2 separate regions of the Homo sapiens genome follow, and region 1 is linked to region 2. Evidence: fine-mapped expression QTL. A gene starts in region 2. The other region holds a variant in brackets. All regions are shown on one strand. Distances are between the middles of the regions.

Region 1 (4,514 bases), 130 kb before region 2:
TCTCAGAACTCCATGGCATTTGACACTGCTAACCAACTTCTACAGCATTAAGCCCGCTGCTCCCCAGCTCTCGTTCTGCAATTGTTGAGGGACAGTTATGCGCACGTGTGTGTGTGTGAGAATATACGTTATGAATTATACTGGGTGTGCATTTATGTACATATATGCATATAGACGATATTTTTTTAATTCCACTTACTGAACATCTACTACCATTATCAGAAATTACACAAGTATTTACATGCATCATCCCATATAATCCCCCCAAATTGCCCTGTATTGCTTCCTGACTCCATCTACACCATCACCAGTTTTTTCTTGGTTTCTTTGCTGGCATTGTCATATGGTGGAGTCCTTGGGGTTCTGTCCCTCCTCATCTGCCCAGGTGAGCTCACGCACTTTCATAGCTCACCGCCATCTCTGTGGTGATGGCTCTGAGTCTTCCTTTCCAGTCCAGGCCCATCTGCTGAGCTCCAGACACCACACCCATGTGTCCACCCAACATTTCCCATGAGCCTCTCAAAGTCAGGACAGCCAATACCAACCCAGTTCTCTCTCCATCCCTCCCTCCCAATTCCTCTCCAGCATCTATGCTCCTTGTTTTATAACCTCTGTTGCTGTTGTCCCCCTGAAGCACCAAGGGAAAGGAAAAGCCTCCTCACTGGGATTCCTAATGGAAGCGTTTGCACACAGTGACCCTCCCAGCACGGACCCCTTGTTAATAGATGGGTAGGAAGCACCAGGAACAGAGTATGTTCAAAATCAGATAAGCGTTATAAAAACTGGTATGGGGTCAGAGTGGAGATCATTTTCCAAACCAACTATTCGAACCACCCCATCGCCATCTGGGTAAAGACTGGGTTGTGCCTCCAGCAAGCTACTCTGACTTGGGAAGACCGTGTGCAACTATCTTTGGGAAACACAGCCGCATGCTCCTTGGCTGGAAATGATCAGAGGCTCTAAGGAGTGTAAAAAGGGAACACAACCCTGATTCTAATTTTTATTCTTGGAGAAATCACGTTTTATTTTTCATATCAAAGAGGGGGAACTCTGTGGGCAGAGTACTCTGCCGAGAACCAGTTCTGTTCTGCAACTTGTCCCAATCATCAGGAAAACACATGTTCCAGGGAAGCCCCCATCAGGGCACACACAGCCCCAAATCAGGGCATGCTGTCACTTCCTCTCATTCCCTCGAGAGCCCACCTGGCCAAAGAGGCTCCAGTGGCCTGATTGGAGGGCACATCAATAATATGGAGGGTCCCCGTGCCCCCCGACCTGGAAAGTCAGCCTCAGCGATGGGGCTCTCGGGGCCTCTTAAAATGGGAAAAACAGAAGATGAAAAGGCTGTTTGCACTTGTCAGCAATGCTGGCACTGCTCACTATCCATACTTTACCCTCCCCAATTAAAACCACACACTTGATCTGTTCACATAACAAAGCCTCCCTTAGAGCCCCCAGAGGTGCCTGCTCCCAAAACAGCACTGTCAGGGCACAGCCTCAGTCCTCACTGGACAGAAACCAGGGGCAGGGACCAATCCTCTCTCTGTCCCAGCCCTTTCAAACCAAAGACAGCGTCTCTGCGAAGGAGGGAAGCCGCATGTTTTCATGCTGAGATACAGTGCAGATTTATGATCGGCACCTGTGAGGTCCTCAGGTACCTCTTGCTGGAACAGAGCAACAGGTTTCTAAAGGTTCTGGCCCTTGGCCTCTACATTTGTCACCACTCCTGTGGTCACTCTTCAGTGGAAG[T/C]TGCTCACCAGCCTCCTTGTCCCACATGTAAAAGCCAAAAGGAGGGGCCCTACAGCACCACTGTCATTGGAATCCTTCCAACATTCCCCACCCACCTTATGCAGTGGGAAGACAAGGTTCCTACCAGACCCTCCAAAGCCCAGGAACCTCTCCCTGTGCTGACATCCAAAGATGCCCGGCGTTCCAAAACACCAGAAATCCAGGGAAGAGGCCCTACCTTGGGGATGAGTACATTAGGAAATAGCCAAGGAGCAGGATTAAGTAATTATACACTAGCCCACCAGGAAACCATGACACTGAACATCCCATGGGGCCCACGGGTCTGGTGGGTGTTTCTCGCCCACTGGGGGCTGGATAAGTGAGCATGAGGGTGTGCCCCAAGAAGTGTCCGAGGCAGAGCTCAATCCTTTAGAGGTTTATTTTGCCAAGGTTGGGATGTACCCAAGCAAAAGAAACACAAGTTACAGTAGGGTCTGCGGCCTGGGCTTTTCTCCAAAGAGGGGTCTGAGAAAGAGCAAGCAGGAGGGGAAAAGGAGAGAGGGGTGCCCATGAGGCAAGTGGTTACATCCTCGGAGGCTTTGATTGGCATTCAGTGAATCTGCATCTTACATATAAAAAGAAGGGGCCGGGCGCGGTGGCTCACACCTGTAATCCCAGCACTTTGGGAGGGGGAGGCGGGTGGATCACAAGGTCAGGAGATCGAGACCATCCTGGCTAACATGGTGAAACCCCATCTCTACTAAAAATAGAAAACATTAGCCAGGCGTGATGGTGGGCGCCTGTAGTCCCAGCTACTCAGGAGGCTGAGGCAGGAGAATGGCGTGAACCTGGGAGGTGGAGCTTGCAGTGAGCCGAGATCGCGCCACTGCACTCCGCCTGGGCGACAGAGCAAGACTCCGTCTCAAAAAGAAAGAAAGACAGACAGAAAGAAAGACAGACAGAAAGAAAGACAGACAGAAAGAAAGACAGACAAAGAAAGAAAGAAAGAAAGAAAGAAAGAAAGAAAGAAAGAAAGAAAGAAAGAAAGAAAGAAAGAAAGAAAGAAAGAAAGAGAAAGAGAAAAGAAGGGGATAGGGGAAAAGCCAAGTATGCATTCTTCTCAGGCTCAGCAAATCTACATTTTATATAAGCAAGCATGTGAAATCACGGCTATCCGTTGCGGGGTGCGGGATAAAAAGGAAAGTGGTTTTTTGCATGACTCAGTTCTCAAGCTTAACTTTCCCTTTGGCATAGTGAGTCTGGGGTCCACAGCTTCCTTCTTTTTTTTCTTTTTTTCTTTTTTTTCTTTTTTTTTTTCTTTTCTGTCACCCAAGCTGGAGTGCAGTGGCTTGATCTCAGCTCACTGCAAACTCCGACTCCCAGGTTCAAGCGATTCTCCTGCCTCAGCCTCCCGAATACCTGGCACTACAGGCGCCCACCACCATGCCTGGCTAATTTTTGTATTTTTAGTAGAGACGGGGTTTCACCATATTGGCCAGGCTGGTCTCGAACTCCTGACCTTGTGATCCGCCCACCTCGGCCTCCCAAAGTGCTGGGATTACAGGTGTGAGCCATCACACCTGGCCGGCAGATTTCATTTTCCTTTCACAAATGCGTGGTCTACTGGACAAGCCCTGAGATGAAGATGGCTAGAGAGGCTCCACAGTCCCTGGAGGGGGGCACTGGCAGGCGGTCCACGGCCACTCAGGCTGAGACCCTGGCTCTAGAAAAGGGAGGAAGTGCAGGTACCAATAAGGTTTAAGGATGGATGTATCAGACTGTGGACAAAGACTAAAAGAAACAGGGCTGCCAGCCCAATACTGACACCTTGCTTCCTCATAGAATAGCAGATGTGTTGGGGTGGCAATGTGCCCAACTGCTATGGTCTAAATGTTTGGGTCCCCCCAAAATTCCTATGTTGAAATCCTAACACCCAATGTGATTGTATTAGGAGGTGGAGCTTTTGGAGGTGATTTGGTGATGACGGTGGAGCCCTCATGAATGGAATTAGTGCGAGATACTGGGATTTACAAGAAGAAATATATATCTGCTCTTCTTGTTTCCTGGCATGCAGCTCCTAACACTTGGAATCTCCAAGGTGATGTGTCTTTTTGTGTGCTAATAAGATGAGTGGTAGTGAGGGGCTTCTGGACAGCCTCAGGATGGGGGCTGATTGCCAAGTGAACCAACCCTGTGATTAGAGCGTTGGAACTTTCAGGCCCACAATCCCACCACCACCCCTCACCTTAGGGAAGGGAAGAGGGGCCAAAGGTTGAGTTAATCACCCAACAACCAATGATGTAATCAATCAAGCTATGCAATGATGCCTCCATAAAAACCTAAAATAACTGGATTTGGAGAGCTTCCAGTTGCTGAGCACATGGAGGTTCCTGGAGGGTGGCGCCCAGAGAAAGCTCCACACCCCTTTCCACAAATAAGAGGTTACCCTGTGCATCTCCTCCATCTGGCTGTTCATCTGTATCCTTTGTAATATCCTTTATAATAATTGGGTAAATGTAAGCAAGAATGTTTCCCTGAGTTCTTGAGCCATGCCAGCCATCCCACTCCTGGAGAAGGGAGTTGTGAGAACCCCAATTTATAGACCATCAGTCAGAGGTACAGATCACAACCTGGGATTTGCAACTGCCATCTAGAGTGGAAGCATCTGAGCCCTCAACCTGTGGGATCTGATGCGAATTCCAGGCAGACAGTGTCAGGACTGAACTGACTTAGAGGACACCCAGCTGATGTCTGCTGGAGAATTGCTTGCTGTATGGGAAAACATC
Region 2 (4,000 bases):
ACCACACAGTCTGTTGTTCCTATTCAGCTCTCCAAGGCTCACCCTTGATCTAAAATACGCTTCGAAAATTAATACTCCCATTAGGATGAACAACCACACCTGTATCGATCGAGGTGTTCCAGAGGCAATTTTGCTCAGATCTTATGGTAAAAGCCATGCAATGAACTTAAAAAACAAAGACCATTATGAAATAAACAAATAAGCAAAGCTGGACGAATTTTTCAAATTTTAAAACTCAAGAACAAATAGCAAACATTAGTTTTAAAGGATTGGTTTGGATTTCTGTAGATGGAAGTAAAACATACTGAGTTTACAAGCCTATGCGATGTATTTCAGCACGATCCACCAAATGCAGTTACAGATGTCAAGAGTTCTCAGAACAAGTGCCTCTCTTCATAAATATCTGCTCTGCATATATATCTCTCCCATTCCCATAACGTCCATTCTTTGTTAATATAGGAAAAAAACCGACTTTCATCAAAATGCTACAAAACGCCAAAAATTAACTCTTGGGGACAGTCACTTTAATCGAGACGTCTTTCTTCTATGGAGATTTGTTCACCACTGGCTTCTCTGATTTGGTGGTTAAGAGTCTGAAAATCGGTCATCCTTAAGGTCTGGAGCTCAGAAAGCACGCCGCCCCCCCTTGCCTGCCCCCTGCCCCAGGACGCCGGATGCGGGTCGCCTGCCCAGTCCCGTCGCCCACAAACCACGCCGTTCTGGGCGGACGCGGGAAACCAGAAGTCCCCGAAGCCAAGTCAGCGAGCGACCACAGGGGCCGCCCGGCCGATCCCCGATATCCGGGCTGACCCAAAACCCGACGGGAGGCGCCCCTCCCCCGCCCCCCCACCCCACCCCCCACCCCCACCGCCCCCGGTCAGGGCCGCCGCGAGGGTGAGAGGCGCGCCCACATGCTGCTCCGCTCCGGGTTCGGCTCCCACCTCCTCGCCTCGGCCGCGGCCGCTCGGATGGCGAGGTCGTGTCCCCGGCGCGCGCGGTCCCCGGCGCTCCCTCCGGCCGCTGCGGGCTCGGAGGACGGCGGGCGCCTGGCTGCTGTTTCCTCCAAGAAAAGTAACTCCGGGAATCAGCGCAATAGGAGCGGGAACGCGATGCTCCGAGAGCGGCGAGCCGGGCCCTGGAGTTATTCTGCTCGGAGTTTCGAACTGCGCCCCGCGCTGCAGCTACTCGGCCCCGGCGTTGGCCGCCGGAACTTGCCGCCCGCGGTGGCGTCCCGGCGGCCGCAGCGCCTAGCCCCCCCGGCCCGCGCAGTCCCCGGAGCCCGTCCCCGCCTGGTCGCGGACACTCACCGAGAAGCCTGCCCAGAAGGGGCAGGAGTGGCGGACGCGGGCCGAGGTGGTGAGCGCCAGCGCGGCGAAGCTGACTGCCACGATGAGGCATCCGAGCGCCATCTGCGTGGCCCCGAGCGCCAGCACGATGCGGGAGCGGCCCGGGCACTCGCGCAGGCGGGACAGGCTGCGGGGCAGCGCGGCGGGACGCGGCGCTCGGGGGCCGCCGGCCGGAGGCATCGCGCCGGGCGCCCGCACGCCTCGCCCGCTCCCGCCCGGCCCGGCGCGCGCCGCCGCCTCTCCTCACAGAGGGTCCGAGGCAAGTTGCGCCGGGTGCAGGGACGGCCTCCCAGCCGGCTGCCAGGGCTGCGGCGGCCGCGCGCCGGGAGCGGGCCGGGCCGGGCGGGGAGCCGGGCGCCCGCAGCCCCCGCCGGTGCCCGCGCCCATGCCGCCGCCGCCGCGCCGCCCGCCCGCCGGCCGCGCCGCGCTGCGCCCTCCCCCGCCCGCCCCGCGCGCTCCCCGGCCCGAGCGCGGGCGCGAGCCGCCGCCGCTGCTGCCGTACCGGGCGCGAGCCGCTGCCGTCCCCGGGCGCGAGCCCCGCCGCCGTGCGCTGGGCCCCAGCTGGGGCGGGAGCGGGAGCCGGGACCCGGGAGCCGGGAGAGGGGCGGGGAAGGCGCAGGTGCGGTCCTGGCGTCCCAGCCTCCGCGCTCACGCCTCGCGCCCTGGCGGCTGCAGGTCTGCGGAAGGAGAGCGGGGGCGGCAGCGCATCAAGGGCAACGGCATCAGCCTCCGCGGCGGAGCCCTGGGTCGGCTGCGCGGAGGGGCCCGATAGCGGCAGCGGGCCAGCCGAGCCTTCAGAGCCTGGGGACGGCTCGGGATGGGCGCGCGGGGCGCTGAGGACGGGGAGACGGGCTGGGAGCAGACAGGAGGGAAATTCCGAGCGCTGGGCCGCAGGTGTGGCGAACAGGAGCCTCTTGAATGCAAAAATCCAAGATCCAAGATGCTGCTTTTCTGCAGTTCGAGAATCTCCCAAGCCATCCGCTGAGAGAACTCAGCTCTGGAGGACATTCCGAGAACATTGCCAGGACACACACGATGTCCCTTACCCACCTTTGGTTTGCATGCTTTTGATACAAGTTAAAAGTTTGGGCTTTAAAAAAAAATTGCACAAAACGAATTTAAATGCGCAATATCATTAATAACCGATTAAACCATCTCCACTCCCTCTTGCCAACATAGAGTTTAAAATATCTAAGTACTGGCTCCCTTGGAATACCGGGAAATCCTGCAAGTTTTGATTGCCATAATTCCTTTGTGGCCCTGTTGATGAGCCAACTTTAAGACTCTGCTTGTGTTGAAAAGGGCTGCATTGACAGATTAAGAGATCACCAGCGTTAGGGAGTCTGAAGGGACCAGACGTGAAAAGGCAAAGTTCAGAGTAATAAAGGGAAACGGCCGGTCATTTCCTGAGACCATTCTTCCGTGTCTTTCTAGCAGACCTTACTGTTGGATGAGAAACGCTAGAGAGTGTAGTCCCAAAATATCTCGGTTGCTGGTGCTTGAAATTTCACCGTTAGAGATATTGATTCCTTTGGGGCTTGACGATCCTCTATTAAAATGCAAATTCCCCTTGAAGGGGCTATAGCTCAAGCCTTTATCAGCCAACACTTTAGCAGGGATGGGATTTATTTTCCAATTTAACGAGATGGCCAAGGGATGAACAGGGGGTAGGGAATTCCACAGATAGAGTGACTGATCTCAAAATGCTGGCCCGTGGCCAAACGCTGCCTTCTCCCCCAGTTCTTATCTTTAACAGGACTAAGCCTCTGGCCGGCATTGTTTAAAGCACTCCAGTACAAATTCCAATTTCCTGGAGACATTTTCTGCCTAGAAGTTCGCAGTGCAGCACTTTTTAAGAGCTTGAAACAATACAAGGCATGACCCTGGACTGGCAGGAAGTTATGTTCGCATTTGATCATCTCCCCCATTCATTCATTCATTCATTCATCCGTTCATTCATTCCTCCAACAAAAGTTCATAAAGAGCTCTCTAATCATAAGGCTTTTTTTTTTTTTACGTTCTTAGGGTACATCAGTGAACAAAACAGACAAAAATCCCTGCCTTTAAGGGATTCAGAGAGAAACACACAATAGCCTAACAAATTAGTGAATTACAGTTTATTGACATTGTATACTATTCAAAAAATAGTATACACCCACTATGTGCCAGGCACTGAAGATCGAAGAATGAGTTGCAAGCCCCCTGTACTCAGAGAACTTTCGGTCTAGTGGGAAGACTGGCGGCACACTGGGTTCAGTGTTATGGAGACTACACAGTGCCCCCCCAACCCCACCCCCACCAAAAAAAAGGAATCAGATGATAAGGAGATTTGAAAAGAGTTTTCTGACCACAATACCAAAAATGGGTTGAGGGGTGCCCAAGTGAAAGAGTGTTCAGAGGCTGTTACTGTCAGCTGGCAAGAGGTGATAGTGTTTTGGATTAAAGTGGGGTTAGTGGAGATGTCGAGAATTGGGTGTGTTTGGGAGATGTTTCGGAGGTGTCAGTGATGAATTAAACAGAAGGGGGAGCCAGTTGGTGACCTCCAGTGATCTCCCATTTATGAATGAGAGATGCTTCCAAAATATATGTGAATTGATTTGTTTTATTTATTTATTTAAGAAAGGTACGGAAAGAGAGCTCCAAGCAATACAGCA

Alleles and levels. Positions count from the first base shown, and alleles are read on the strand shown. Sizes are in standard deviations (SD) of each study's normalised expression.
With allele C in place of T in region 1, the expression in spleen of the gene that starts at base 1,782 in region 2 is lower (small effect, 0.40 SD a copy in GTEx).

The links. PIP is the estimated chance that this variant, and not a neighbour inherited with it, causes the effect.
Region 1: its variant is the best candidate, but not a certain one, in a credible set for the expression of ENTREP2 in spleen (GTEx, PIP 0.70).

What each region holds. Positions count from the first base shown.
Region 1 is chr15:29,441,451-29,445,964 of GRCh38, forward strand. The region is part of intron 1 of ENTREP2 (endosomal transmembrane epsin interactor 2); the gene reads right to left. Among named protein-coding and RNA genes, the nearest start is that of ENTREP2, 130 kb to the right of the region's middle. The variant T/C (reference allele first, on the strand shown) is at 1,750.
Region 2 is chr15:29,569,198-29,573,197 of GRCh38, forward strand. ENTREP2 (endosomal transmembrane epsin interactor 2) reads right to left here and starts at 1,782. Exons shown (of 11, transcript NM_015307.2): 1 at 1,308-1,782. The coding sequence starts at 1,526.